2 separate regions of the Homo sapiens genome follow, and region 2 is linked to region 1. Evidence: fine-mapped expression QTL. A gene starts in region 1. The other region holds a variant in brackets. All regions are shown on one strand. Distances are from middle to middle.

The links.
Region 2: its variant is fine-mapped to the expression of DENND1B in whole blood (INTERVAL, PIP 0.95).

The regions. Positions count from the first base shown.
Region 1 is chr1:197,767,143-197,783,680 of GRCh38, forward strand. DENND1B (DENN domain containing 1B) reads right to left here and starts at 8,338. Exons shown (of 23, transcript NM_001195215.2): 1 at 7,997-8,338; 2 at 5,726-5,790. The coding sequence starts at 8,013. RefSeq lists silencers at 7,686-8,195, 8,346-8,545, 8,837-9,131 and an enhancer at 9,506-9,555.
Region 2 is chr1:197,725,370-197,741,907 of GRCh38, forward strand. All of the region lies in intron 2 of DENND1B (DENN domain containing 1B), which reads right to left. It also overlaps the pseudogene RPL24P5. Among named protein-coding and RNA genes, the nearest start is that of DENND1B, 42 kb to the right of the region's middle. The variant C/T (reference allele first, on the strand shown) is at 7,902.

The DNA of each region.
Region 1 (16,538 bases):
GTTAAGTTTTTTCTTAAGAATACAAATTAATAAGTTCTGGTTCATGAAGAACTTACCTCAAGCAGGGCAAACATACATTTAGACACATCAGTATTTCTCTAAATGACCATATTAAACATATCTATAATAGTACAATAAGTGCTAAAATACCAAGCAGAAGCAAAATGTTGTAGAGTCTAGTGTAGATAGTATCACTATAGACAAAAAGTTATCAAATGCAAAAAGTAAGTTTAGAGATACCTTTCTTGTGCAGGGCATGGAGGACACTAAGAATTCTTTGGCTTAAGGCTCTAATTTAACAAAAAAGTGAAAGGCAGTTAAACTGTTAACATAAGTTGCAGATAAGAAAAATTGATAATTTGAGACTGGGTTGGATAGGCAGATCAAAGTAGAAAGCTGGTAGCAAAGAAGAATTTGTTCCTAAGAGAAACTGTTCTAGGTAAAAAGAAAGGAATAAAGAAAACAAGACGTGCTAAAGATGTTTTAAAACTACTATTAAATAGCCAGAACTATTAGATCAAAGATTCACTAAATATGAAGATGCAAATCCTAAAAATGAAAAGTGACAGGGAGGGAAATGGGATGAGTTAGGCTCTGCAACCACAAAGAAAAAACTCAGTAATTGTTTTAGGTGGAATTATATTGGATTCATTAATTTTAGGGAACACACTGTATTCCCATTTGGAAAAAATGATTTGTACCACATACAGTTTATACTCAAATATTTCCTCGCATGATAAAACCACCTATACACGTGAAGTCACTATGCAATGGGAGGCAACACAGCAGTAGTTAAAATACAGACTCTGGACAGACTACCCTGCGCAAGTTTCATCATTTCTCTGTTCTTCAGTTTCTTCATGTGCCAAATGGAAACAAGCATTTCCTATATCATAAGATTTTTGTGAGGCTTAAATAGTACATGAAAAATATCCAGAATTTTGCCCAGCACAGAATAAGTACAACATATTAGCTGCTGCAGCTGCTGCTGCTGCTCCTCCACCTCCTTTTCCTCCTCCTCCTCTTCGTCGTCCTCCTCCTCGTCCTCCTCCTTCTCCTCCTCCTCTTCCTCCTGCTCCTCCTCCTCCTTCTCTTCCTCCTCCTCCTCCCTTTCCTCCTCCTCCTCCTCCTCCTACTACTACTGCTACTATTACTACTTGGAATAAACTATCAACAAAATTAAAAAAGAGAAAGCTAGAGTACCAAGGCCACTTCCCAGAAGAGAAATGCTTAGAGGCATACCCAATCTTTTATTGACGAAAAGTTACTTTTCATTTCCCTGAAGTCTTAAGTCACTTTGGGGAAGGTGGGGACAGTATGGTAACAATGACTTCTGTTAACAGAATTGAGGAGAGGCCATCACTGCTGGCTGTACTTCCCTGCCTGCTAAAAGGAAGACAGACAACAAAAAGAATAAGAACACTAGCAATTATCTTGGAGATCTACCAGGAAGAGCATTAAGATCTAAATTTTGGCACTTCACTTTTGGACAGCTGGAGCAGAAGTTACTGGGAGGTTGTTCTGCCAGGGAAACCTCCATTAAAAAAAAAAATGCCACAACTAATCTGTCAGACACCACCAGAACAAATTCTACTAACACATAGGGGACACTATAGGGAAATACTACCAACCCCTCTTATGGCATTTTTTTAGATTTGTAGAGCACTCCATATGAAACTAACAAGCTATTTTCCAGAATGTTCTGAAATGTGTTGTTCTCAAAAAAAAAAAAATCAATATAATGCCTCTGAAACAAGTCCAAATAGCAGTAGACCAGATAAAGATCACAATCTTACCAGAGGAGCTTTATCAAGTTATATTTTAAAAGCTAATGTCATTTCACACTGTTAACTAAAATTTAATTAACAACCTGTCTCTGAAGATACTTATCTAAGCTATTCAGGATAAATGAAAACATTTAGACTTACCTATGAAAAATGAACAAGAGAAGCATGCCAAATACCTTAACATAATGTCACCAATCTTAGTATAAACCAAATTTACTCTAAATACATTTTCTATTTGATCAGTCAACAAAAAATTATATATTCTAAAAGTTCTTTAACAAAAGCATTTTAATTGATTTCTCAACATCTATTCATTGCCAATTTAAATAAATCAATCACAATAGTCTTGCCACCAACCCCTTTACCTCTACCCCACCAATGATAATTTCAGGAGTGGTCAGGTGCATGCCAACTTAGGCTACCAGGATCTAAGGAAAGGCTTTCTAGGGGATTTGAAAAAAGAAACTTTCTGGCTCTAAATAGAGACATGTAAAGCCAGTGTCTGTCACCCCCAGAGTCACAAACAAAAAAGCAGAGTTCCAACTTCCACTGACAGTCTTATAACCGCAAGAAATCTAAGCCCTCCAATGACACCATTACTGTGAGTGGCAGAAATGAGAAGCAGAAAGCACCTGGATGTTTGACGACTTCTTGTATGAACTATATCGATGTTTGACGACTTCTTGTATGAACTATATCAAGTTTCTCTAGTTTCTCTATTATTTAAACCAATCTTATGTTTGTACTCCAAAGCATCCTAATTTATACATTTTGTTTTCCAATCTATTACTATTTAAGAATTTCACCCATGATCATTTAATGTTAGCAAAAAAAAAATTATCGTACCTTAAACAAGCTGATAATGCACATATCAGAGCCTCATTAAAACAAATAGGTACTAACAGTTAAATATGAGGATTCCAATAACTTTTAAAATATTTTTCATATATTTTTCTATTTAAGATTTAGCTGTAAAGTAGAACATTGATAAAATATTACAGAAACATAAATCTCTCAATTTGGCAAAAAAATTTACTTTTATAGCCCTCTTATAGTTATTGATTTTATTATTTATAGCTACTAATTTATCATTTGTTATTTATTATAGTTACTGATTATAGTTATTACTTGTTAGATCCTAAAATATTAGCCATATTCATACTATTTAAGTCATAATAAAAGAAGAAAGGTTACTGCTGCTTACATGGCTGAGTTTAGTTTTTTAAAATATCTTTAGAATTTTCTGCCATTTAGCCATATAGAATGGATTATTTGCAACCTACAAAGAAGCCAACATTATTTACTTTAACCATTTATCATATTTACAACTTTACCAGGCTAGATATAAACTGTTAAAATACAAATGAAGATGTTTCTAAAAAGTAGTGATTTAAATAACAACAGCAAAAAGACAAGGTGTAATATTAAAGCAGGGCAGAAGTAGAAGATACAAACTGGAATAACTAGCTCATGAAAAGTGGAAAAGAGCAAAAAGAGGAAGAAGGGAGTAAACCACTCAAAAGCCTTTATAAGAAGACCACAATCTCTCTGACACATGCATAGATTGGGTGTTATATAAGGCAAATTGATCTTTTAACAAGATCACTTTAATACACATTTAAAATTAGAGAATCCATATTTTCCAAGTGAAATTAGCCTGTTGTGTGTGTGTGTGTGTATATATATCTATAAATATATATAAAAATATATATCTATAAATATATATCTATAAATATATATCTATAAATATACATATCTATAAATATATATCTATAAATATATAAATATATATCTATAAATATATATAAATATATATATCTATAAATATATATAAATATATATCTATAAATATATAAATATATATCTATAAATATATATATAAATATATATGTAAATATATATCTATAAATATATATAAATATATATCTATAAATATATATCTATAAATATATGTATCTATAAATATATCTATATATCTATATAGATTTTTTTTTTTTTTTGAGACAGAGTCTCACTTGGTCACCAAGGCTGGAGTGTGGTGGTGCTATCTCGGCGCACTGCAACCTCCACAACCCCAGTTCAACTGATTCTCGTGCCTCAGCCTCCCCAGTAGCTGGGATCACAGGCATAGGCCACCATGCCTGCATAATTTTGGTATTTTTAGTAGAGATGGGGTTTCACCATATTGGTCAGGCTGGTCTCGAACTCCTGGCCTCAGATGATCTGTCCACCTCGGCCTCCAAAAGTGCTGGGATTATAGGCGTGAGCCACCGTGCCACGCCTTTACAAGCAATATCAGATGAGCGTTACTTCACGCACCTTCGGTAATGTTGTGGTAGATATTTTTTAGATTAACTTATATCATAAACCACTATAGAATAGAATTAAATTGGAGCTGAAAACATAATGTATCCATTTGAGTATCCATTCTACCTAATATATCCATTCTTCAAAGAGGACCCGGTTGGGGCTCAAAATAATGCAAATGGACAAACTTTACTACATACAGGACAATAAAAGATAACTTCATCAACTAGAAAAGGCTCCCTACAACCTAGGATCACTCCTTGCCAATAGACAAACCTGACCACAGCTGCAGTTCAGATAGACCAGGAGTACAGTAGTAGGGCTGGTGGAGCCAACAATATGTGACTTCATACTAAAATTAGCCATGCCCATTTCACCACAACTGGGTTGGGCTTCTCTATTTTAAGGTGTGCAGCTCCAAATTACTTAAGAGTAGGTAATTGCTGGATAGTTTCTGAAGCTAAAATTGTCAGCAGACTTTCCTCCAAGGCTTTAGGATGGCCAATCAGTCTCCACGAAACCCCTATGCTTAATCATCATGCTATCCAGGGTCTAAGCACACAGCAAGTAAAGACATATACTTTAAGTATCTAGAAAGACATACCATGCAAGAACACATTAAAAGAAAATAGGCAAGAAAAGAATTCCTTATTCTTGTCTGCTAACCCTGCCGCCTACCACACATATGCACAATACACAATATGACAAAAGTGGAGGGAAATGATGAAAATCATGACATTAAAGTATTATGCTCTCATCTTTTCAGGAAATTGTACGGAACTGACAGCTGAAACCCTTCCAAGTAATTTCACACTATCGTTTACCTCCCTGCAAAAGTGCTGTGCTATTGGAGTAAATCCAACAGAAGGGGCTACTCAGTCTGCATTCTGCGTTCTGGAAACATCAGAAGGGAAGTGGTGTAGTTTCCATTGGTACTAGCAGGAGAATGTGCACTAATGTTTAAAAAAAGACACTAAATTTCCAAACATAAATGAAAGAAAATGAAAAGATTCGCCCTTTCACCAAAACTAATGATAACTTTACCAACGAATGGTGAAGCTGAGTTGTAAGTTATATGGGCTTAACAACACACCTGAAATTCAAGCTGCACTGATAACATTCATGATTTTTACAATCCCAGGGCAAAGACTTAACACCTATTTTATTACCAGCAACTTGAGACACTCAATGCAGAATACACATTTAGTAGTATTATTTTCCTATTACTACCATGTTCCAGCAGTCCACAATATTAACACTTGCTTTGACAGATTCAATCAATTATTTTAAGAATTAACAGAACAGGCCAGGCACAGTGGCTCACGCCTGTAATCCCAACAATTTGGGAGGGCAAGGTGGGTGGATCACTTGAGCCCAGGAGTTCAAGACCAGCCTGGGCAACGTGGTGAACCCTGTCTCCACAAAAAAATATACAAAAATTAGCTGAGCATGGTGGTGTGCATTGGTAGCTCCAGCTACTCGGGAGGCTGAGGTGGGAGGATCACCTGAACCCGGGAAGGAGAGGTTGTGGTGAGCCCTGATCATGCCACTGCACAGCCTGAGGAACAGAATGAGATCTTGTCCCAAAAAAAAGAGACCTTGTCAAATAACAGAACACAGAAGACACATACCTTCATTTTCAGAGGCATGACATTTCACTTTCAACACCAAGTCAAAGGTTCTGTCTGGATTTGCCCTAAAAGGAAAAAGTTTAAATTAATTTCCTATGACAAATAAACATCTCCATGAAACTTGTATTTTCTTAATTCTAAAACTAATCTTGTTTTTGTCTCAATACATTTCACGTGACTGTATTACTACAGTATAGTAGAAATAACAATGAAACTGTTTTCTCAATTGAGCAACTTAAAAGAGCTGAGACTTAGGAATTCTGAAACTTGGGGCAAAGCATTTAAACGCTGAGACTGTTCTCCCTTACCTATGAGGTGCCTTGTCCACTTCACAGAATAATAGTGAGGATTATAAATCAAATAACATATGTGCAAGTACTTCATTAAGTACTAAGTGCTACAAAAATGCAAAGTATTGGTTTTATCTTATTGGATCAAATTTAAAAGCCAGAGTGTCCCTAAGTGTCATTATACCCTGCCAACAGAGTTTGACACAGGTTCTCAGGCTGTCTCCAAAGGACTTGCAATATAAGTGTAAATGATGAATACATGGTTCCACCTGCCAAGTTCTAGATCACCATAAAACATTGATAATGCTCCATGAATGTGATACGTTGCATATACTTTTCTTAAAATGTATTTACTGTACTTATGCATATTTAAAGTAGCAAACTATTCATAGCTCTAAGGCTAGCAACATAAAAAGCCTTCTTTTTATCCATTATCTTTGGAGAAACCAGCCATCTGCTTCCATGTTAGATTTTCCCACTAGAAACTGTAAGTTTACTTTGCTTAATTCAGAAGTTATTGACTTTTTTACTAACTTGCCATATTTGCAAAATTTCAAAGCAACATTGGTTAAATTTCAAAAAGTGAACTGAAATATACTGAGACACTTTTTCTTCATAACATTGCTGTTTAAATCTCTCGTTCCATCATAAGGTAAAAGATTAAGTCTGTTACCACAACGGCCAATGTGTTAATATCTCAGTTATTCCTGCTAACAAGACCTTAGTGCCTTTGTACATTGGCTGTATTTAATATGTACTTCCTTCAAGAAACGAATGCCAGCTCTGACTTTAAAAAAAAGCATTTCTTTTTTTGGAAGCTTTTCTTATAAGATATGAATCTGGAAACATAGGAAGTGACAAGACATATAAATTAACATGCAAATATACATTTTTTTAGCCTTTCCGCTATTAACTTGTTTCAATGGGAATAATCTGGGCTCAGATGACTTCCTCCCTCTTAAAACAATTAATGTCAAGAAGCATACTATTTTTACTCACTTACCCTGCCCACCATGATGTCAAACACACTGAAGAAAATAATTCTATTACATAATTTCCCTCTTTCCCTAATATTCTTTAGAATTTCTCTTAGGTGTAAAAGTTAAATATTGACTCAGTTTTACTTCTGTGAAATTCAAACGGCCTTTCACAATAATACAAATATACATGGCATTATTTTAAACTTTTTGAGAAGGAGATAGTAAAGGGTGGGTAAGCGAAGTAAAAAGGAATTCTTTCCAAAGTTAAGTTTCAGAAGAAAAATATAAAACTCATGCCTCTAAGATACCTAGAAACAAAATCACCACCGTTATTAAAATTGCTTTTTACCTAATCTCCTGAGCAAAGTAGTCGTTGATAAATACTTTAGCACACACATAAAAGTACCCTCTAATTGGATACCGTTTTGCAAGAACCATGCATCTACAGTTGCTGCATAAAGAAACACCAGAGACCAATCTAATTTTATAAGCAGAATCATAAGAAAACATCCAAGACAAAAGTAACAAACGGACTTAAGAAAACACCGGTTATATTTAATGCTCAGAGAGCACTCGGAATAATAACCTCTTAACCTCAACGCTGACTCCCTCCCGGACACCACACGCACACAGGCAGCCCCAGGAGAGTCACATCTGACACACTCGGGGGAAGCACGAGAACCCCTCAGCGGCGGTGTCAGGGGCCGCCCGGCCTCCCCTGTCCCCCGAAAGGCGGGCGTCGACAAGGCGCTAGTGGCCTCTCCGGGAGGAGCCGCGCCAACCACGGAGGGCCGGGGACGCAGGGCGGGCAGGCTTTGCGGCCTAGCGCCGTCCCGCCGGCCGGCCAGAGGCTTGGGGGCCGGACCGCACCCCCAGCCCGCCCGGCCAACCTCGGCCGCCCGGGGAGCCGGTTGAGCGCGGAGGCGCGGAGGAGCCGAGCTGGCCTGGGAGGGGCCGCCGAGGGACGCCCGCCCCCGACGCGCCCGGGCCCCCCCACTCACTTGGTCCTGCAGTCCATGGTTACATGTCGGTGTGGGGCTGTCCGTCCGGCCCCCGCGCGCTGGCCTGGAAGCCCGCAGCCCGGCCGCGCGAGGGTCGCGCCGTCCCCGCCCACGCCGGCGGCCACACAGGGAAAGAGGCTGCTCACAGCAGCCGTGGCGGCGGGCCCATGTCGGCTGCGCCCCCGGCACTTCCCCGCCTCCCACCCCACCCACCAGAGCCTTTCTGTGACAGCAGCGGTGGCGTGGCCGCCGCCCCCGTCTCCGCCGGTAGCCGCCACCAAAGCTGAGGCCTCTCAGTTCCTGCGACCGGGGCCGCCCGCTGCGGCTCCTGCACCTTCTTGCAAATCAGGAAGTCGCCGGGAGGGGGAAGGGGCGCGCGGGGACGCGCCCAGCGGCTTCACCTGGGCCGTGCGGCTCGCAAGTCGGAGACTGTGGAGGAGGCGGGGGCCAGGTCCCCGCGCCCGGGCGGCCAGAGGGTGCAGGGGGAGCGCTAGTGCCTGCTGGGATGGCCCACGTACCGCTTTGCCACCTAGCCAGAAAGGCAAGGTGCCCCCTGTGTCCTCAGCATGAACCAAACCGGCTTCCTTTCTGGGTCCAGTCCAGATTCCAGGGCGTCGGGGCTGCAACCCCACAAAGGGCGAAGTACCTGGAAAAGTACCTCGACCTGCAGTGTTTTCCACACACATACACACGGACTTGGGTTCCTTTCATTTCATACTACAAATTCAGAGCTCAAGTTGATGCCCCTGGCTCTTGCGTCACTCCAGCTGTGGCCTGCTTACAGCTCTCTGAAATCCAGAGCTACCCCCTCCTGATTCAGGAATGTTCAGACATGTGCACCTGCTAAATAGCCCTGTCAAGTAGCCAAATGGTAGTGCCCCACTTGTCTGCGCATGTGGGAGGCAGACATTCCTATACCACAGACTGCAGTGATAACCAAGGACTAACTTTTGAACACATGTACATAGTCGCAGGCCTCATAGTCTGGCAGTTTAGGCGAGTTCAGAGAGGGCACCACTGAATAAGCGTGGGAGGGACTGATTTACACAGCCCTAAAGCACATGTGAAGCAGGTTATGTGCACTCTCACCCAGTACTTGTCATAGGTGTGTGATAGATACTTTCATCAGCATTTTACAGATGAAGAAACCAGGGAGTAATGGCAAAGCTGGAGTTCACACCAGGTCTATCTGATGCTGATTATTTACTTCTACCTCATATTGCCTGTCTCCCTCCTCTGCTGTCTCATATTTAGGATCTACTGAGAAGACAGGTAGAAAAGTCTTATGATGGACATTCAAATGACTGTGGAAGGCCAGGCTCTTACACAGAGATCTTCTGGGAAAGGCCTTCTCCCAGCTAACACTGCCACCCTTGACACATAGCCACAGTGTTTCTTCCAAAAGGTGGTTACTTCAGACTTTATTCATGCAGAAGTTAAGATGATGAGAGGAAACCAAATGTGGTATGAATGTAGTGTGAGTCATAAGACATAAAAGTCAGAAAAGGAGTCTTAAGAATTAAAAAACTCAAGAGTCAGAGAACCTGAAGTTGCACTCAGTTATATAACCTTAAACTTTCTTGCCAAAATTGGGTACTACTTGGTCAACAGGATCAGAAATATTGTATAGCCATGGGCCTGTTAGTAAAAAATGAGGACGGGCCATAACTGGGAAACAAACAAACAAAAAAAAAATGTGTTTATCATAAAGTGTTGTCATAGCTTGACTCGGGGTGAGACACTTCAGTTTCTCGGTTCCTACATTTGTAAAATGGGAATTATTACTTGTACATCACATGAGCAGTGTGATGTTCAAGTAAAACAGGTGCTACAAATTTGTATTATCTTTTGAGAAATTATTCTGTGAATTTCAGTTTCACAATTAGGCAAACTATACTACATAAGTTTTCTTTTCCCAAATAAAGATTTTTCTGCATAAGTGACCATACTCCAAAGCCTTGAAAAAAAAAATTCGTAAGCTAAAAGCCACTTCTGCCCCAACTGTTACTGAATTTCTCAAACTTCTCCTTTCATTATAATTAATTATTTCCAAAGAAAGGAACCCTACTTGGGGTGACCATATTGAGGACTTTTTAATTTGGTGTGAGGAGATAATAATACAATTGTTTTCCTCATCCATTGTTGGGATTTTATTTTAAATGACAGTCATACCCTTGAACAGTATAAAATTGTTCTTCATTCCATTTATGTTAAGTACATCGAGGGAAATACTACACATTCGCATCCCAAAGCAAATCTTTTTAAGTGAGCTTTTAGGCTGACCATAATGAAGAGATTTATCTGTTCTGTTATTACTGAAATAAAAGGGATAGGAACATAGGTGTACATGATCTACATGCATGAGGTGTTAAAAAATTAGAAAACAAATATCATACACTTACCTTGGTAATAGCTTTAATGAAATCGATGGTATAACTTTAGTAATACTCATTTCATATAGAACTTCCCATATGACTGATAGAGAAGTGTACAAAGGGCAAACCTTCAAATTAGTCTTAAATCTTCCCAAGATCATATTTCAGCAATGATATTTCCTACTCGACAATTAATATTAACAGTTTTCAGGACCATACCAGTCAAAGAACATAGTCTGTATTGTTGTCAAAGAACATGGTCTTTATTTATTAATTAATTTCTTATTAATTAATTAATTTAGTTAATTTTTTAAATGTTTCAAGACTTAAATGTTGTATGTGGTTTGTAAAGAATATATATTCTGCAGCTTTGGGGTACAGTGTTCTAAATATATGTCCATGATCAAATACGATGATTGTGTTGTTGACATCTTCTATTACTGAATTTGCATCTGCTTGACATAATTCAATTAATGGGAGAGATGAGTTTAAATATCCCAACATGATGGTAGATTTTTCTATTTCAGCCTATAGTTCTTTCAGGTTCTACCTTACACAGTTTGGGGCTGTGTAATAATATACACATCAGTTTATAATTTCTATATCTACCTAATAAATACAACCATTCATCATTATGTTGTTACTTTCTTTACCTCCAATCGTACTTTTGCCTTAGATTCTAAACAGTTTTCTTCTGAATAGTATTTGTCTGATGTTAGGATATCTCTTTTCATCCTTTTACATTCAAACTTTCTAAACCATCATGTTTCAAATTTATCTAAAATTTTTAGTCTTGATTTTTAATCTAGTCTGATCATCTTTAGCTCTTACATCAAACCCCTAGACAATTTGCATGTATTAAAACTGTTGATAAATTTAGGCTGGGCGCAGTGGCTCATGCCTGTCATCCCATCACTTTGGGAGGCTAAGGCGGGTAGATTAGTTGAGGCCAGGAGTTCAAGACCAGCCTGGCCAACTTGGTGAAACCCTGTCTGCTAAAAATACAAAAATTAGCTGGGTGTGGTGGGTGGTGCAAGCCTGTAGTCCCAGATAATAAGGAGGCTGAGGCTTCAGAATCACTTGAACCTGGGAGGCAGAGGTTGCAGTGAGCCAAGATCATGCCGCTGCATTGCAGCCTGGTTGACAGAGTGAGACACTGTCTAAAAAAAATTAAAAAAAAAAAAGAGAGAAAAATGCTGATAAATTTAAATCTATTTCTGCCATCTAATTTTGTACTTCCCGTTTGTTTCTTCTGATCTGTTTTTTTCTTTCACTTTTGCATTCTTTAGGATTACTATTTATGCTTTCATTTCTGCCCCCACCTCTTCTAGTTTGGAAGTTATTTACTCTGTTTCTATTCATTTAGGAGTTATCCTAGAAATTTTAATAGGTACATTTTAACTGATTAAAGCCAGAGTTCACAAGGATATCCACCCTCTCTCAAACAATACAAGAACCTCTAAAACCCCCTCAAAACTAAAATCCCCCCAAAAATGCATTATGAATGTTGTTTTATACAGTCCATGTTTGTTTAGATTTACTCAGAACTTTACCATTCTTTTGTATTTTCATTTTAGATCTTCTGTGTAGGATCACTTTCCTTCTGCCTAAAATTCTTTCCCTTTTTGTTTGAGTTGGAATGTATTTATTTATCCCTCACTCTTGAAAAATATTTTCACTGATGAAGAATTCAAAGTTTACTATTATTTCTTTCTGCATGTTATCAATATCATTACACTGTCTTCTAAGTTCCCTAATAACAATTGGAACTTTGAAAGTAATCTTAAAATGTCATCTGTTTTTTCTCTCTGACTGCATTTATGATGTTTCATTTTTGTCTTTAGTTTTCTATAGTTTCACTGTGAAGTATCTAGGTGTAGATTTTTATTCATCCATGTTTCTTGGTTTCTTTAATTTTCTTGACTCTGGATTGGTGACTTTCATCAGTTCTGGAAAATTCTGGACTCCTTTCTTTCCATTCCTTCTGGGACTCTGATAACACATGTGTTATTCTACCCTCCATGTTTGTCAAACATCTCTTTTATAGTATGTCTCTCTTTATCTGTCTACGCTGTATTCTGGAAAATTTCAAAAATATTCTGTTCACTAATTCTTTCTTCAGCTTTGTCTCATTTTCTGTCAAAGTCACCCATTTAGTTTTTAATTTATATTATTTTTATTTCTAAAGTTCTGTTTGGTTATTTTCCAAATCTGTATTCTCTTAACTCATATTTTCAGCATCTCTTTAATTTATTAAAAATATTTAATATATATACTTTAAATTCTATTTCTAAAAATTCCAATATCTGAAGCATTTGTGGGTCTGCTTCTACTAACTGATCTTTTTTCTACTTGTTCATACTTATGGTCTCTTGATTTCTTCTATGTATGTGATTTCTTTTTATGTTATGTGATCCTTAGAACTTTATATATAGAAATTGAGTGACAGCTGAAATGAAAATGAGTTCTCTGGAGAAGATATTAATTTACTGCTGGTAGATGCTTGGGATCACTAGCAATTCAGAAACATAAACACTAAATTCTCAGCTTGAAATTCTTCAGACCATTCATGTGAGACCTGGTTTGTAGCTATGAATCCTCTGGGAAGCTTTTTTCCCCTTAACTATGCTCCATTGTTTGAGACAATTGTCCTTGAATACCTTTGGGGTGTATCAGCTTTATGAAGAGTATCCTGTTGGATTTCCCACATTAGGAAGGGTCTGAAGACCCATAAGACCATGATAACAGTTCATGGTCTTCCAGTTCATCCAGCTTAGGAAAAACCCTAAAGATGAAGATGAAAGGTGGCTTTTCTTTTTTTTTTTTTTTTTGAGATGGAGTCTCGCTCTGTCGCCAGGCTGGAGTGCAGTGGCGTGATCTTGGCTCACTGCAACCTCCACCTCCTGGGTTCAAGCAATTCTCCTGCCTCAGCCTCCCGAGTAGCTGGAACTACAGGCACCTGCCATCACGCCTAGCTAATTTTTGTATTTTTAGTAGAGGCAGGGTTTCACCATGTTGGTCAGGACGGTCTCCATCTCTTGACCTCGTGATCCACCCACCTCGGCCTCCCAAAGTGCTGGGATTACAGAGAGAGGTGGCTCTTGTAGCTACTTTTATTTGTCCCCCATCCTCCACCCCTAAGTATTCTCACTTGATTGCCTGCTCTTCAATGCATTGCAAGCTTTTAAAAATACTTAATTCTGAATTTTTAGTTGATTTTCATGCAAGTTTTGATCAGACTATAATGGATAATTACTTGGTTCTGACTATAGTGTCATGTAAAATGGACTAATTGCAACTTTTTAATCCACCTAATAAGGTCCACTTTCCTCAAACCAGGTCCAAAAAGTCCCCAACTTATATATCCCTATATATTAATGGTGTAGAGAAACCCAAGTTCAGGGCTTTTAGTGAGCCAACTGCCCTGATTTCCAGTGTACTATGACAATTAGAAAGGTAACTCCTGGCTTCCCAACCCCAACCACTTATTCATTGAATCCTTGTAGTAATATGCCTTAAACAAAAGTGAAGAGTTACTGATACCCAGGACTACTAAAGTTGACAGCTCCTTTCCCTTCTGAATGCGAAATAATAAACACTATTGTAAACTCTAGAATGGTATTTTTAAAAATAATAATACTATTAATAATGCTTCAGGTTCAGTATAAATTAACTCGACTAGACTCATAAGCCTCACCAATGTATATGAAGATTTTGAGTTCCAAACAATTAACTTAGAAATGAATTTTTTGAGGCAAGCATCTCATGAGTTGTAGCTAACATGTATCCAAGTCAGGCATTTCCTAGACTAACTCTGCACAACCTCTTATTACTATTCTTAGGTGAAATTTATTAATAGTATTACCACCTTCATTTATTATAGAAGAAAAGTTATAAAGTATTTAACAAACTGAATTTATTGAAGCTCTTAGGAAACTATCTTTAAATTATTTTATCAGGACCTGCCTTTTAATATTGACTGAGATAGTGTTGTTAAGGAAAACATCCTCCTGGCATGTTGTCCTTTTTATACTTAGCAGCAATATCATGAATTTCAATCTGAAGGTAAAATCTCCCTCAACAAGACATGTGAAATACTTTTAAAATAAAGAGAAGATGGAGGTGGGGATTCGGGATCAATATCTTCCCTGAAAGTTTGCCTTTCTGAGTTGTTTCACACCTCAAAGCTCATAGAGTTAGCATTCTATGTTGATTTAAAATCCAGTTTAATAAAAATGTTGTCTTCCAGTTTGTGGACAAAAGAACTCAGATAAATTTTGACACCTTTACTACCAAATCTGAACATATCCAAATATTTCTAAAATTCAATGGGTCGATGATGATATTTGTATATCTTGCTGTTAAACTTTTAGTAAGAAAATACAGTAAAATTCTCAAAAATAATACAGCACAGCAAAAGATCTTCTTCTGCCTTTTTCAGGTGATTTGCCAAAAATTGTAAATAAATTTTCTTACCTCTGACCAGTTTCTGCTTGTTCTCCCTTATCTTTGTTCCTCAATCTGCCAGACATTGTAGAACTTAAAACAGTCCTTGGAGTTCAGAACAAAGAATAATTGAAGCAGAGTGTCACCAACAGATGGTAATCAGTGGAGTCAAATTTTCTTCAGAGATTCTTTGAGGATTCTCCTTTGGACTTCAAGAAAGAGTGCTGTGTTTGTGTAACCATGTGGCATTGCATGGGAAATAATTTCCCAACCCCACCTACAAGATACTCCACGTAAATACAGTCTTCCTTGTATGGCAGCTCTGCTCACACCCATTTAACACTCTCAGGAGAATGAGTAATCACATCCAATGAGCAATGTCATTAGAATTTTCTGGAAGGAAACATAAATGATCATCTAACATGATGATAATAGTTCAACAAAATCAGCAGCCCCATAAGCAACCCTAATCCTAACGTAAATAGAGAGATTATCAAAACAAATTGCTGTGTGCCAAGTTTTGCTTTCCTAAAATATGAGAAAATAACTAGCCAAACATTACATGCATTTGTATATGATCAATTCTAGAAGGGGAAAAGTGCAACATTCCAGCAAATAGAACTCAGTCAAATACCAGGTCAAATGGTATAATTCCACAGCACAAGTTCATATGAAACAGAGACTTGTAACTCCAAAACAGATGACAAACTCTCCCCATCTCTTACTATTGCAAATTATAACAAGATAAAAATGAACAAGGACTGAGAGTTCTTCTGGGCTTCAAAAGTATGGACATCATCTTTCTCTCTGCTGTTGTTTCTGATGTCACAGACCCAAGTCTTAGGCAAGTAAGACTTGCCAAAAAATGGTCTGGTAAGACCATTTTTGCTTGTAATCTTCTCTGGGAAAGAAGGAACAGAAAGAAGGATCTGTGAAACTGATCAACGTCTTCTTAGTTTGGTGAGAACTTATATGTTTCCTTTGTAAAAAGGATGCAGTCTCACCTGACTTTCTTCATTCACGGTGCATAATTCCAGAAGTTTCTTCCCTTCTTCTCGAGACTGCCAATCAGGACAGCTGGGCTTGGCTGGAATGGAAAGGAGGAATTTGGACCCATGATCCTGTCCATTTGCCTGACTGTATGCAAGTGACTTAATAAAATTACTGCATCAGTGTGTAGTGACTTCTTTCTGCCTGCTGCACAGCTGTTTCCTGGGCCTTCCCTTCACTTCCCTCTTGGACTGAGTTGTGGATCAGGAACATATGACATTAGTATGTATACTGTGCATAGTAATTATACTGTGTTCTCCCTATGGTTACTTAATAAAACTACCAAATAGGTGCTGCTAATTCAGATTCTGTGATGATGTAGGTACAGCCATTGATTACTACACAACCCATTTATATGCCTATCTGATTTTTGACACAAACATGTTGTACTTCCTCTTTAAATAAGCAGGCATTAATTATTACATAATGTATGCAGGAATTCATGAGGATAGGCTTAATATTAGAATTAGTAGGAAGGTTTTAAATCAAGTGGCCTACTATTGAGCTAGAAACAACTCACTCCAGCAAACCAGCTGGCTTAACTACTCCCAGTTTGTGAAAGAAAAAAAAACTTTAACATTTGAGTCACTGTATCATTTCATGCACAAAGACTTCATGGACATACCAGAAAGACAAGCTTTACCACATTTGCATTTATTCTTTTTTATAGT
Region 2 (16,538 bases), 42 kb before region 1:
GAAAGACAAAACTGAAAGATTTACCAAGAATAGACCCTTTCTAAAGGAGCAGCTAAAGAAATTGTAACAGAAAAATTCTTTTTTATAAAATGCAAGAAATTATATATTTCTTATATGCAAACATATATATAAAACAATGTTTACTGAAGCACTGTTTACAATTAGCAAAGTTTTGCAAGATAACCTATATGCCCATCAATATGAAAATGATTATACCATTATTATTCTATGAAACACTATACAACTCTGAAAAAGACTATAGCCTTGAAAAAAAAAGTTATATTTGTTCATATGAAAAAAAATCTAAAAGAGTGATAAATGAAAATAATGAGACAAGGTGAGGTCAGAGAGTTAAGGGGGAACAAGCAGAACATAAAGGGCCTTGAGAGTGATAAAAAGGAACCTGCTTACACTCTGGGAAAGGGAGCCACAGCAGCATTTGAATAGAGAGGAGACATGCTCTGACATATTTTAACAGGATCACCCTGGCTTCTGTGTTGAGTATAAACTGAAAGGTAATAAAATAATGAACCCAGTTATGATGCTACAGATAATATTTAAAATGAACCTCTTAGGAAAAGAACTTACATCATTCATATATATATGAATGACTCAGATATATATATATACATATACACACACACACACATATATATACACACATATGGATATACACACACATACACATATATATAGACAATTTGTGGTAAAATATCAGGGAAGGAAGCAGATAACATAAAATTTACAAGATGATCTACCCTCTTGAGACAGAATTCATGGCAAGGGCAATAAGGGTCCAAGAGTCCAATGGAAACTCTCCCAGTAGATTATAGTGGGTGTTTTATGAACCTGACGTGGACCCAGTGATCTTGCTGGCATGTAAATACTCTGGAAAGAAAAGAATCGTGTTTTATACAACTAAATGAGTTCTAGATCTGCAGAACTTCAACATAGATGATGAGAAGCCCTCCCTACTCACTTTGCAGAACCGCAACCCAGGCTGTGAAGGATCACATGACATTAAAACTGCAAAGACCTGTGACTAGCAACATCATTATGAATGGCAGTCCAGGAGCCAAGTGCAGCAATAATGAAATAGGATATACTTCAAACAATGGGCTAAGATGAGGGTGAATATCACTGTCAGCACCCACCAAAGTCAGAAGCATAATCCTAGGTGAAGCACTAAAACAAGGTCTAGACAAATGATTGCATCAGTGATATGGAAATAATCGCAGTGAGACATTAAGAGCAAAGGCATGAAGCATAGTAGTTGAGGTAGACAAGCAATTCCTCAGTACTTATGAGATACCCCTGGAGGGCCACAGAAATACTAAAAGAGAATGAATACCTCAAAATGGGATCGAGACCCAGAAGGTACTCAAGAGGTTATCAAGCTGGAAAAAAACTGATTCTAAATATCAATGTGATGTGATGTCATCTATACCTTCATGTTAGAGAAATCTAAGGACTTGTGGGGAACACCTTTCAAATGTTCATAGTAAAAACTAAGAAACTTGTTAACATAAAACTATAATAATAAAATGAACACAACATAGCTATTACATTTCAGTTCACAGGTCTCTGTTGATGTAGAATGAAAAGCAAATGAAAGTAGAGATGTGAATATTTTATTCTGTTTCTAATTAAATATGTTGTTTTATTGCTAAAATCTTCCCTGATCATATCCAGAATTTCCTTAAACTAATAATGGATAAATATCATTAACCTTTGAGGTCAAGATTATGACTGGTAAATACAACACTGTGATACTGGCAAAAAGAATCATTTCCTTGAAGGGGCAGAAAACTATTAGTCTGAACATGCTTACTAATAATTAAGTCCTACAGTAATTTTCACCCATTTTTCTTAAAACATAATTAGCGCCGGGCGCAGTGGCTCACACCTGTAATCCCAGCACTTTGGGAGGGCAAGGAAGGTGGACCATGAGGTCAGGAGATTGAGACCATCCTGGCTAACACAGTGAAACCCCATCTCTACTAAAAATACAAACAATGAGCCAGGCGTGGTGGCAGGCACCTGTAGTCCCAGCTACTTGGGAGGCTGAGGCAGGAAAATGGCGTGAACCCGGGAGGCGGAGCTTGCAGTGAGCCAAGATCGCGCCACTGCACTCCAGCCTGGGAGACAGAGTGAGACTCCTTCTCAAAAAAAAAAAAAGAAAAAGAAAAAGAAAACATATAATTATCAAGTTACTGGGAATTATATTAAAAATGCTATGTATTTCTAATAGAAAACAGTGATCTGATTTTGAGGCCAATTGGACTGGATTCTACTAAGCAGAATTCAAGAGCAAACACAAGTTCACAAAGATAATTTGTCATGTGACATTACACAAAATTGCCATATATCTTAGATCAGCGGTAAGAAGGATCACAAGAGACCTTGTTTCCTCTCCCTACATGGCAGGCTCCTTTATGTTCCACTAAAAAAAGACACATCCTTTTATATTCTACACATATACAGGGACTGCTCCAAATCTCCCAGCTTCCCTCCTAAAGTGTAAACTAATAGTTGAAAGTTCTTCCCAATGTCCAACTAAATATCTCAGAAGATAATTTAACTCTTTTCTCTCTTGTTGAAGAGCTGTGAAAAAAAAAAATGGATCGCCCCTACATATAATTTAAAACAAATTCAAAAACTTTTACTGAAATTCTATTTCCCATTGTTCACAAATTATTTCCTATATATCTACATAGCAGTTCTCAACCCTTTCTGTTCATTAGATTATCTAAGGAAGATCATTTAAATTTTTAAAAAGTGACCCTTCACCCCACCCAATACCATTCTAGACACATCTACAATTGTTTAAAAACTCCCCAGGTGATTCTTATGTGCTGTTCTGGTTGAAAACTACTGCCACAAATCTTTCTGTAAAGAAATTTTTCTCAAGCCTTTTAAAAACCTTCTGCCATTTTTCAAGTTTCAAATATTGTTTTAAACTGGACTAAAAACAAGAACATAATATATAATGTGATATCTAAAACTAAGTGTTTTTGTAGATATTCATAAGCATAAATGAAGCAAAAATTCTATATCTCAAATTCAATTTTCCCAATGACTTGATTACAACATCCCCTTGACTAGTGTCCAACACTGAATCATATCCCTCTCACTCTACCTATGGAACCCAGACACCAATGCTAAAAGTTTCAGAATCAGCCTTCACACGCCTTCATCCTCTACGTCTAATCAGCTGCCTAACCATGTTAGTTATTTCTTCGAAATGCAGTTGTCATCCATTCCTCCTCTTCCATATTCATCTTACTCTAAATTCTTATTGCCTAATTAGTCTTCTTGCCACTCAGCTCTTCTCAACTCACTGCCACTAAATTAATCTTAAGAGTTCTTATTATTCCTCCCTTCACAGAACAATATTCAGTGGCTCACTACTGCTTAACAAAACCCAACTCATCAAACTGTGTTAATATTTAATGCCTCATATAGAACTTTAAAATTTTAACATAACTCCATATACTAAAACCAGTGTTGCAAAATTCTGCACTTCCTACCCAATTCCATCCTACCTATCTAAATGTATTTCCCACCAACTCCAATGCAAATTTTCTACTCAATCCCAGTGTCTTTTCACATAAATAAAATTTATTCCCAATTTCAAGGATTTACTTATACTCCAACACATGCTGCACCCCCTTCTGAAATCCTATGTTCACTTTTCTCTGTCTCTCTAAAATCAATACATTATTCCTGATCTATGCTATGAGACCTTCCCAAAATACTACAACCACACAGACTATCCCACTTCCAGACAATAACCATCGCTACCAAACCATCTTATTTGTGTCTCCTCATTTAAACAAAGCTCCTAAAAGCCAGAATCATGTTTCAAATTTTAATGTACACTTCATAAAGGCAGCTTTTTCAGTTTTTTATTGAGTATATTTTCCATTCTTTCCATTCAATGGATATATATAATGCAAATAAAATTATTCCCTATCATATCAATTTTTCACAGTAAATGTCATAAACTTTATTTGCTTATTTTAATGTGCTTATTTTAACAAGTAGCTGGCTTACCCTAACATAAACCTGATCAATTCTGATTTAAAGGTAATATAATAAATCAAGTAATCCTTAACACCAAAGAGAGGGAAGTGATCTGCCCTTATTTTCACTACATATTTTCACTAAAGATAACAAGCAAATGAGCAGAGTAAAGCTATTACTAATTAAGAAAGCCCCATACTTCAAGAAAGAAATAGGCAATTAAATAGTAATCATGTAGAATAAATAGTAATTATACAAATTATCCTTGGGCATTTGCCACTGACGTGTTTTTAGTTAGCCCCCATAATGTACAGCACAGTACCTCTCAAGCTTTTTGGTCTCAGGACTGATTTATTCTCTCAAATATCACTGAGGTCGTCAAAGAACTTTTGTTTAGGTGAGTTATAGTAAATGACATTTATGTATTAAAAATCAAAACTTAAAAATTAGTAAAGCACAAAAATCTTCAAGTACACACTTCATTAGTCATCAGAGTTATAACTTCATCATGTCCTGAAGCCTATGCAAAAATCTACCATATACTTGTGAGAAATGGGAACGAAAAAGGCTAATAATGCCTCACTACTACGAAAAAAGTTCTGACCTCACAGAACTCCTGAAGTACTCCAGGGAACCGCCACAGACCCCTAGACTACACTTTGAGAGCCAGAGGTATATCACAAAGAATTTTAAAAACAGATTAAAATAATGTTTTTATGTATGGTATAAAACTTGTTTTCTAATTAAGATTTTCTTTAAAACCTGAGAAAAAGTCAAGGTATAATTATTTATACCTTATATATTACACAAATATAGTCCCTTTTTACAGGTAGAAAAGACAAAGGGGAGATTTCAAGGTTAAATGCCTTTAGGATATATAGGTAATAAAAATGAGTAGAGTGAGCCTACAAAAGACAGACTATAAAAGGACATGTAGTAAAAAATAGATCCCATTCCCCTTCCCAAAAAAGCAACCATTATTCAGCTCCATCCATGTGGAATGTGGGCCCAGTGTTGACAGATACTTTTGATTTTTCAAGAAAATCCAGAATATTTATGAAAACAAAATCACCTAATTTTTAAGTTGGGAAAAATAATTAAACATTTCATGAATACCATGTGAGCCAAATAAGGTGTGTCAGGGGGCCATTATTTTTTATCTCTGTATTATGACATGGGAACTTAAATTGGAAAAGAAAAAATTCTTTACGGTTAATCACATGTTTAAAGTAAAGGGCTACTTGAATTTTTTAATCTGTTACGGTGGCTTTTAGACTGAAAATAGTTTTTATCTAATTTTTTTCAAATGTGCCACACTAAATGCAGGAAAATTAATCCTAATTTTGCAGATTCTAAGGTTAACATTTTAAAAGAAAATGAACATGGACATTATTAAACCTGTTTCCTTGACCTTAAGAACTTTTAAAAAAATAAGTTAGACACAAGTTGTTTAATCAGAATTGGTACATATATAAATTATATATGTATATTATTTGACATTTTTGAGATGTCTGAATTTTATAGGCACACTATCAAAAGAAAATACAATCTCAGAATAGGGTTGATCACTTTAAAAATTAGCTTACTAGAGCCCATAATGTTGATATTACCATATGACAACTTCATGATTCAACATAAAGGACAACTGAAATCTGGGAGGATACTGGCTACTAGAAAGTTTCGAGGAATAGCAGACACTACTTTATTCTGGTAACTTCTTGAGAGTATTTACATCACAACTTGTAAGAAACAATGAGAAAATGAGACATCCAAAAGGATTAAAACAGATTAGCAAAGAACTCATAAAGAGAAGAATTATGTCCTTTGGAACAACAAACAGAATCACACATTTAGAAAAATAATTATTGGCTGAGAAACTATAGCAGGAAAACAAACTGAAAGAAAAAGAATAAATTTGAAATTCATGACCTCAGACCAAAAATATGCTTATATTTGTTGTATATTCTAATACTAGTCTATCCTCTAGGAAAGTGAGCAATTAATTCCCATTTAGGTTGTCCTAAAAAAAAGTAGTAAGGAAGTAAAACAATAAAAGAGTTGGGGGATTATCATTTGAAGTCTAAAACTTTCAGTAGTATATAATTATATCTTCAGTGAATTCTTAAAGCATTCACGGCATGGTAGTTACGTGGCTGGATACTGAAGTCAAACTTCATATAGACATGCCATGCATTGTCATTCACTCATTATACACCAGGGGCGTCCAATCTTTTGGCTTCCCTGGGCCACAGTGGAAGAAGGAGAATCATCTCAGGCCCCACATAAAATATACTAAAAATAGCTGATGAGCAAAAAAAAGGAAAAACTTTTAAAATGCTGTAAGAAAGTTTATGAATTTTTTGGCCACATTCAAAGCTGTCCTGGCCACATGCAGCCTGCAGGCCATAGGTTGGACAAGCTTGCTATACATGATCTTTCTCAAGCTACACAGCACTCTGTGCCTCACTTTTCTCCAATGTAAAGTAGTGATAATAGCAGTACCCACCTTGAGAGATGTTGATAGGATGAGTGGAGATTACATATATTCACTATATCATTATATGCATTCACTATCACTATTCGCTATCACTTTATTCATCATTGTAAGGCGAGATGGAAAAAATGCTGAGATACTGATGCAGAAATTTGACCATAGTGAACAGAGGTAATGCATTAAGCAAAATGGTAGGTTATTACTGGCTCTTTCTTTCTCTTCATATAAATTTACCTCCCCTCACCCAGGACCTTCCCAAGTCTGGTCACTTGTTTTGTAATGCCATCCTTCTATACTTCTGTCTTAAAAGAGTAATTCCTTAAGAAATTTTTACATTTATGGTCAACTAATTATTAGTTCAAAACTTAAGAGTGCTGCACAACAGCTCACCACCCATTCCTAACTGGCCCACCTATGTGTTTCACGTGTTCTTCTTTCCTTCAACTCACTCTCAACTTCTATTTTCTATACTTATCTCTTTGCCCTTACCTCATTATCACTCAATGGCCAGCACAATCTCTCCTCTCTGTCACCTTCTCTATCTCCTTTCCTCATTTTCTGTCATGGTAAAAGTGAAACTGGGTAACTACAGGAAGAAATGTGTATTGTTACCAAAGGGAATCGGAATAATAGAAGAAACATTAAGTTAGTTAAAAGACACCATGGCAGACTGATCCTTAGAATATGACTCAAATAATACAATATAAGCTGCTGCTTCCCCATATGCATAGTTATTCTCAGGAATAAGTTACATACATTAATACATCCAAGCAAGAAGCCCAAGTGCATAAAACCTTAATTATTGCTCAAGATTGATATGTGACTGACAAGAGGAGAAGCAATTAGTCCAGGTTGGTAAATAAAAGCAGACAGATGACACAGTTACTAGCAACTTAACTTCCATCACCTCTAAATGGACTGTAACTACATTCTTGGTATTGACAATGCCAATATAAGATCAGACAGAGCCTCCGGATTCTTTGTACACTAAGATGCAACCATCTCCTCCAAGGAGTTGTATAATAACACTGCCCACCAGACCTATGTATCAACAGAATAGGTATCAAAATGCCAAATACCAAATTGGAAAGAGTCTTAATTATGTACCGCAGATATGCAGTGTCCTACTTCTTTATTTCTATAGACAAACATGATCATATTAAACAAGGAAATTGGGGAAAAAAACAATGAAGAAAAAGGATCAAGATTTTGTACTCACACAACAAGAAAATAAATATTCAGAACTTGACAGAAGTCTATAATGGAGCTTTTTAGGAAAAAGAGTAAATACTAGACATCTACTGTTTCCTGCATTTATAGTGTGGTCTGCAATATACACTCTTCAAATTATGAAGTTTAAACACCTATGTTTAAGAATAAG[C/T]ACAAAAAAAAATTAGAAATATGCATGTATTATTAGACCTCAAGTATCCACCCCTGACAGTTATTTGCTTAACCTGTTTTTATAAACACAGCATACAAACCTTGATGAATGTTTCTCCTGTTATTCTTCTACCTTACCCAACACTTTTTCCCCCTTACCAGCTTATTTTACGGTCAGAGGTTAAACTGCTAACCCTTCACCTTCCAGGAAAGTTTTTTTTCCTCTCTCATAAAAGGTTTTTCACAGTGTGCAGCAGTCGGATTAGCTCTTCTCTTCGAGAACAAAAGCTCTGTCTTTGTCTTCGTTGTTTGGGCATGGAGCCCCTACATCAGAGGAAGCTGCTCCTACTCAACATGCACAATAATGATATTGTGAGGCCCCACGAAAGCCTGGCCTCTCAGTGTCTAGACTCTCATCCAACCAGCTAGCCAAAGAGAAAATCCTGTCAAGCACTCAGCTGAAAATTAACTAAGGTATCCTGTTGAGAACCTGATGAAGATGTTATTTGACCATACGGTAAAACTTTCTATTGTTGAACATAAAGATAAGAGAAAAACTTTTAGAACTCAATGCTTTAACAATCCTGGTCACCAATTCACACATGGGTCAGTAAATGTATTTTACCAACATACAACCCCTTCCTCTATACGTGCTCTTAAAATAATACACAGGCTTATTTATGATATTCTAATCTCTTGCATTTAAAAATCTGTGCAACTAAAAGATACATTCAAAAAATTACAAGAAATTATATTTTATTTGCAGTATTTACATTAAATATTTATCATTAGAAATTCTGCTACTGTATTTTTCACTGAAGGACCCAATCAAAATGCAGAAGTCAAAATAAAACTGTCATATCTTTTCATATTCCTGAATAAGTTTTAAAATATTGAACAGAAGAGAAACAGTAAACTAAAAAGTAGATAACTGATTAAAACTTAGAAATGAAAAGAGTATATAAACCAAACCATTCTTATAAAAACTATCTGTAAATTTTTTAACCTGTAAAAAGTTAAACACATTAGATAAATTTAAATTCAGTCATATGATGGTAGTGAAAGATAATTCTCTCAAGTATATTAAGTTATGGTTGAGTTCATGAATATTTACAAGGGGCTTTGGGGACTGCTGCAGTTTATGAAATATTTTGTAATTTAAACCAATAGCAACAACAAATATTGAAAATTAAGTGAAAACTATATATGATTACAACCACATTTAATAAGCTCATATTGAAATCTAAAAAGGAATACACAAAAATAGATGTTTTGTGTTATTGGTATAAAAAGAAAAATCTTTTTCCTTCTTTCAAAATTGACTGCAATACATTACATTCGTAATTTAAAAAAAAAAACTTTGCAAAATAATCAGAATAGTTCAAAACCCTACAAACAGACAGCAATTAATGAAAGATAAGGGTGTAACTACTGTATACAGGATTCAGAATTAAAGAATACATCATTTGTTACATACTCCATAGAGTAATATAAATTGATTTCCCAAATTTTAGGAGAAACATAAATATGCTTTTTTTTTAACCTACAACAAACTTAACAAAAGAAATACATTTATTCATAAGGGGGAAAATAATCAATGCTTATACATAGCAGATGTCTGGCATGGAGGAGTATGTTCCTACTCTTTTAATAGACACATGAAAATCTAAGCCTGGCAAACAAAAATATTTAAATTAAAGACTCTGGAACACAGTGGATAAGTAAGAACTGGCAGAAAATGTTAAATATTTCATTCCTACTTCTGTAGAAAAAGCGGACAAAATTTTAACAAAATTTAAAAGAACATTTCATAAAACAATAATATGCAATTTTAAGAAAATAGATTTGGTTAAATCTATATTATATATGAATAATACAAAAGTTAACAGAAAGGTACAAAAAACAATATTGAATGGGTCCAACATGCCTACCATTGAGTATCTTTTACATCAATGAATTAGCAATCTGTAAAATGATTACAGTACCAAATACATCCACCCAAATACTGGAGGCAGAATGGCTTTATTCTACTATACCTCTGCTTCAAGTGGTTTTATTTCCTCAGAATGCTACACAGCTCCACCTTGGCTTTTGGCAATTAAACTAAATAAAATTTAAAAGTCCAAGACCTCAGAGAATTCACTGTTAAAAAAAAATACTCTGAAGCTACTTCTCATGGGTTCTCGGGTACATTTCCTTTGTTAGAAGAAGTGATCTAAAGTTTTGCTTAACAGTTTATGTTTACTTTAGTGTGAACTATGAAACATTCCATTTACAAAGTGTTCTTAGACTTTTATGAATTCTAAAGGGTATTACTCGAAAATACAGGTTGGGGCCATCTTTTCTCCTCCCGTGGAGCTGCCGCCATGAAGGTCGAGCTATGCGGTTTCAGCCGGTACAAGGTCTACCCCGGACACGGGAGGCGCTACGCCAGGACCGACAGGAAAGTTTTCCAGTTTCTTAATGCAAAATGCGAATCGGCGTACTTTTCCAGGGGGAATCCTCGGCAGATAAGCTGGACTGTCCTCTACAGAAAGAAGCACAAAAAGGGACAATTGGAAGAAATTCAAAAGAAAAGAACTTGCCGAGCAGTCAAATTGCAGGGGGCTATTACAGGTGCCTCTCCTGCTGATATAATGGCCAAGAGGAATCAGAAACCTGAAGTTAGAAAGGCTCAACGAGAACAAGGTATCAGGGCTGCTAAGGAAGCAAAAAAGGCTAAGCAAAGTATCTAAAAACACTGCAATGGCTGCTGTTAAGGCACCTACAAAGGCAGCACCTAAGTAAATGATTGTGAAGCCCGTGAAAGTTTCAGTTCTCGAGTTGGTGGAAAACGCTAAACTGGCAGATTAGATTTTTAAATAAATATTGGACTTAAAAAAAAAAAAAGAAAATATAGGTTGGAATACTGCAAAACAACCCACTCTTTTGATTTCAAGCTCAATTTTAAGCTGCAGATTCCAACTTTTATTGAACTTGAATAGCAAAAATTTTGAGTCAGAGATAACATAAGATCTACTCATTTTGAGACTTGGGATTAAATGGTTTGCCCAATTCTTTCTACCTGTCTGTCTGTCTCTCTATCTATCTATCTATCGAGACAGGATCTTGCTCTCTTGCTCAGGTTGGAGTACAGAGGCACAATCATAGCTTACTGCAGCCTCAGTTGAGGCTGCCTCAGCCTCCCAAATAGCTAAGACTACAGGCGTGTGCCACCACACCCAGCTAATTAAAAAATAATAATAATTTGTACAGACAGGGTCTCACTATGTTGTCCAAACTGGTCTTGAATTCCTGGCCTGAAGCAATCCTCACACCTTGGCCTCACAAAGCACTAGGATTAGAGGTGTGAGCCACCATGCACAGCCTCTTATGTTTTAAATTAAAATAATAAATTCTATGTATGTCATAAAAATCATCCCTGAGATAATCTGTGATAAATTTGTTACTGTAACCTTTCCTTACAAATGCCCATACTGCATTCCTGTTGTACTGGAATGTCTATTCATTAGCCCCAAGGCTCTACTGATCTTGCTTGCCTTTCTCTTAGACTGCTATTCAGATTTTTGTTATACCACTCATTCTGAAAACAGCTTCCTTTTTATTTGCGACTGCTGAGTACACACCCAAGCATCTATTCTTTTGAATGTCTCTTTGAGACTACTTCATAAATGAGATTTCTCAATACTAGCATTTATGCAAGACATCAAAACTATTGCTATGTCTCTTGAAAATCACTGAAGACTGACTAATTGCACATAAAAAAGCCTATTCTGAGTCTAAATCATACTTCATCTTTGATAAGCCCTCATCCATTCCTAACTCTATCCCAGTTCTTCCAATTGCACACATAGGGCATATCAGAGACACTGCTCCTTTCCTACAATCAGCTATAAGGCAGCACACCAATAAACCTGACAGCAACATCTCCAACAGAATAGTGGGAAAATCATCTGCCCTATGTCGAAGTGGTTGGATCTAAGCACCACCATAGCCCTATTCCTTTAGACAATGGCTTCAAACTTTCAGATGCATAACAATCACCTGGGAAACTTTTTCCAAAATGTAGATTACACTCCCACCTCCATCCTTAAAATAATCAAAGTATGTCCCAGGATCCTGACTTCTCAATAAATCATCTATAGCTCTAAATCACATACTGACAAACACTGAATAGCAGCTCTTTCTAAACACTTGTGGACATCTGTCTAGCAACATTAAACATTCCATCTTGGAGGTATGACAAAACTCCACAGGCCCCTGAAAACAAGGAGATTTTTTGCACTCTATTAGACTTGTTTGCCTCTATCTACTAAGCATTATAGGAGATTCTCCTACTTAATCATTACGGTGAGAATGCAACAATGATTCTTATTCATTTTTAGGCCTTTTCTTAGCTAGACAAGAAAAACATTCACATAGGTATCCAGGATCTAATTTACTACAGGTAGGGAAGCCTCAAGATTCTAATTATGTAAAAATTGGTGAATTTAAAAATAAATACTTAGAATTCTGCTTCAAAAAAAGAAAAACAAGTAAAGCTATGTCTTCCTGTTGAGTTACAATACACATCTCCCTTTAGTCTGGTAGAACTGTGTTTTCCAATCACCTTGAGGAAATAAAGCATTACTTAGTTCTAAGATAAAATTTCCAGTATTATGCTGAAATTTTATTAGAAAGGAGAGGGTAACATAGATATCTGACCTGGAAGCAGATAACCCAGCTCATTTTCTTCCCGCAGGTTTTGATTGCCTCCTAATTTCCTATAATTTATTGTCCCTATTTACTTTCCCCTTCAACTGTATTTACACAGATTTCTCTGACACCTGTTTATTACATTTCTTCTCCTCTCTGTCACTGATCCAGTATGAATTAGCATGCATGAGTACCCTCTGTTATATAACAGGACAAAGGGGAGTATCTAATATTATAACTGGAAAAGAAGCTTTCATGACAAATGATTTTGAACCAATGCTGAATTTTGAATTTAAGGTGCTATTTTTCTCATTTAGACATAGAAGTATTTTCCTTTCAAAGCCAAAAAATATCAACATTAAATCCACATAGAGAATGACAGCCAGGTCACAACAATTCCCTCGTTTCTGGGAACTACATCTTATACCCAGGGTGGGTTTTCAGTAGTTGCATCCACAATTGGTGAATGTGACCTCAGGCCAGAGCTGATAAGTCAAACACATGACCTAATCTGGCCAGTTTCTTTCTCATAGAAGACTTGGGTTATTAACTGTGAAACACAACATGGAAGATGCTGATGCAGAATCACTTTTTGGCAGAAAGATGACAGAAGATCCTCAGAACTTCCATGGTAACTATATTCCCAAACATTATTTACCCATGTACTTAGTTACCATAGCTTTTCTTCTAACCATAGATGCAGAATGTTAAAGCAGCACTTTTACATCCATAAACAGGACATCTGCTTCCAGCCAAGAGAAAGTACAAACTGTATTTGCTCTCTCTCTAACAACTAAAAATCTAAAAAAATACATTAAACAATTTTCAGACATTAGTAAATGCAGGACAGTGATCCCTGACAGAGATAAAACAAACAAGGTAAGCCTTACAATTGGTCTTAATATCTGGAGTTTCCAGGATGTGGCACAAGGTGGGAGAAACCCAGGCAGAGCCCAGTGGTCTTCCTGAGATGAGGTTGGAAGGCCAAAGCATCTAGACTCCACAAAGAGAACAGAGACGAAGCTGCACAGGAATAGAGCTCTGGAGAGCTGCAGAAGGTTCACCACCAACCCACCCAAGACTTTAGTGCTGATGATCAGTGCACACATATGAGGAAACTACCAGACACTGAGGAAAGAATCACCCAAAAGAAATGGGGGGGAAATCCCAGGATCAGCTGACATTCACACCACCCAGAGTGGGAAAACCTCATAATCAACAAGAGTATCCTGTACAGTACTCAGAGGGTAACACCTTAGCAGTGGGACAAAATCAGCACTGGACTGAAGATGACTCTGGTTTCACCTACCAAAGCTTAAAAGCAAGCCTCAAATGTTCAAACTGTTTCCAAATAACTTAACTGTAATCTAAAACAAAACCTTAAGTGCATATGGGACATATACGAGAAGAAATCATATAATGCACCATAAAGCAAGTCCTAACTGATTTAAAAGGATTCAAGCCATACCATGATATTCTCTGGAATTACATTATCAAAATATAACAGAAACATCACAGGAAAATCCCCAAATATTTGTAACTTAAATAACATACTTCTAAATAACCCAACGGTCAAAGAAGAAATCAAAAGGAAATGAAAATCTAAATGAACTCTAAATGAAAATAAAAACAAAACTGATAAACTGATCAAAAGAAAGGACTATTCTCTGTGAAAGACAATGTTAGTTAAAAGCATGAAAAGACAAAATACAGATGGGAGAAAAAAATGCAAATCCAACAAAGTCATTGTATCCTGGATATATTAAAATCTTTCAAAACTCAGTAATAAGAAACCAACCCAATAAAGAAAATATAAGAGAAAGAGCTGAACAGACATTTCACCAAAGAAGATATACAGATGGAAAATAAGCAAATGATTTCATCTTAATAAAACATAATTGAGTCTTAAAATGCTTCCACCAATTTCTAAGAAATCAGACCTTTACCTCTAAATTAGAATATGTAATGTGCTAAGATATTCTTAACAGTTCCTTTCAGTTACCCTATGAAAATTTTGCACTATCAAATATAATTTTGCATCAGCAAAGACAATCACTACAGCCCTGAACTTGTGTTTGATTTGGGGCTGGGCAGGCATATAACCTAATTATGAGCGCAAAAGGAAGGAGAGTGCGATTTTAATTCTGTTAAGTTGGTTAAAGTGAGACTCACTGACAATGAGCAAAAACTTGAAAAAGGTAAAGAAATTACTTGTGCAGATATCTTGGGAAAGTGTATTAGAAGTAAACAAAAAATGCAAACCCTTGAAGGAGCATGCTTGATGTTGTTCCAGGGATAGCAAGAAGCCAGTGTGGCTGCAGTTAAGAGAGCAAGGGAGAAAAGTGGGAAAGGATGAGGTTAGAAATGTAAACAAGGGGGATTTGAGCCAGTTATATGGAGCCTTGTGGGTCCCTGGCAAGTCTTTTATTTGAATGATTTGAAAAGGCAGAGGGATGAATAAAAAAGGAATTATGAGCAAGAGATCCCTATATGGGGAAGACTGAGTCTCAGAAAGTCAAGGTTTGAGAATTGAGGTTGTAGACAAATTTCTATTACTGTATCGAATATGCTACACAATATATTTTGAAAACTATCAAAAGGAAGATGAAATCCTTGCTTCAGTGAGTTGATAATGTAGTTGAAGAACTAAACAATAATACAATTAAAATGACAGAATGTTTAAATTACAAGGGGCTTTTGGATAGTCTATAGCTTTTGTTTACCTGAAGGAACTTGAGTCAAGAAAGGAAAAATGATTTATGCAAGATCATATAACTAGTTGTTGGTTCAGGCAGAACTAAATTGCCACCTTCATTAATAAGTTCTTTAAAGTCCAGTTTATCAATGGTATGAAGGACAAGCTGAAGAAAAGACTATACTTATGAAGCACTTTTGCAAGATAAATAAGCATTTGTCACATTCACTTGCTTTCCTGACTTCCAAATTTCTGTCCTACAATTTTGAAGGAAGGAGTGAAAAGCAAAGCTAACACCTATGTTGATAAGTAAATTTAGTAGATCAAAAGATAAAAATCCTTCTGTATTTTGATCAGAAAAGCACACAAAGCTTTTCATATGAAGACTATATTTTCTTCCTAAAAAAGAAAAAAAGACTATTTTCTGGAATTTCTCTAGGCTACAAAGAGAAAGGATAAGACAAGTAAATCATTATCCTCTATGTTGATAAAGCTTGCTTCCTTCAAATCAAGATAAACACCGCTGGCTGGTAAAAAATAACATCTCCTGCCAGAGTCCTCTCACTGAAGCAGTAGTACTTCTGACATATCCCAAGATAGAGTAACCAATTAATTCATGTGCATATTCCAAAGATCATCACTTCCAACTCAACCCAACTAAGGATGTATTACCCAAAAAAGGGTTTAAAGCGATTACAATGATGCCATCCTTATTTATGCATATTTATAGAGCAAATAATCATTAAAGCAGTTTTAAACTACAAATATACTTTTAAAATTCTAATGTTAGAATATTAATCTTCAAAGTAGAACAAGCCTAATGTGAGAATGTCAATACACAATCTTTAACACATTTCTGCACAATCGTTTGAACCTAATTATCAAATTGACAATTTAAAGTAATTATAAAGTAACACAAAAACATACCTTTTATGCCATTACCAAAGATTTACTATTTAATAAAACTTCTAAAAGTAGTTTCAAATATTTAACAGGCACAAAACTTAAAACATTGGTATCTATACAATCTCACCAGGTAAAGAATTTAAAATTTCAGTTTCATAATCCTATACACAGAATGAATAAAATGGGCATAAACTACATACACTCAAAAAGAAAAAAAAGAACTAAAATAAACGTGGCAACCCACACCTATGGTATGCAGAAAGGCAGAAAGAACATTAAACTTCATTTAGAGATTCGATTTGCAGTCTCAGCTCTTCCACTTTATAACTTTGGAATCTTAAG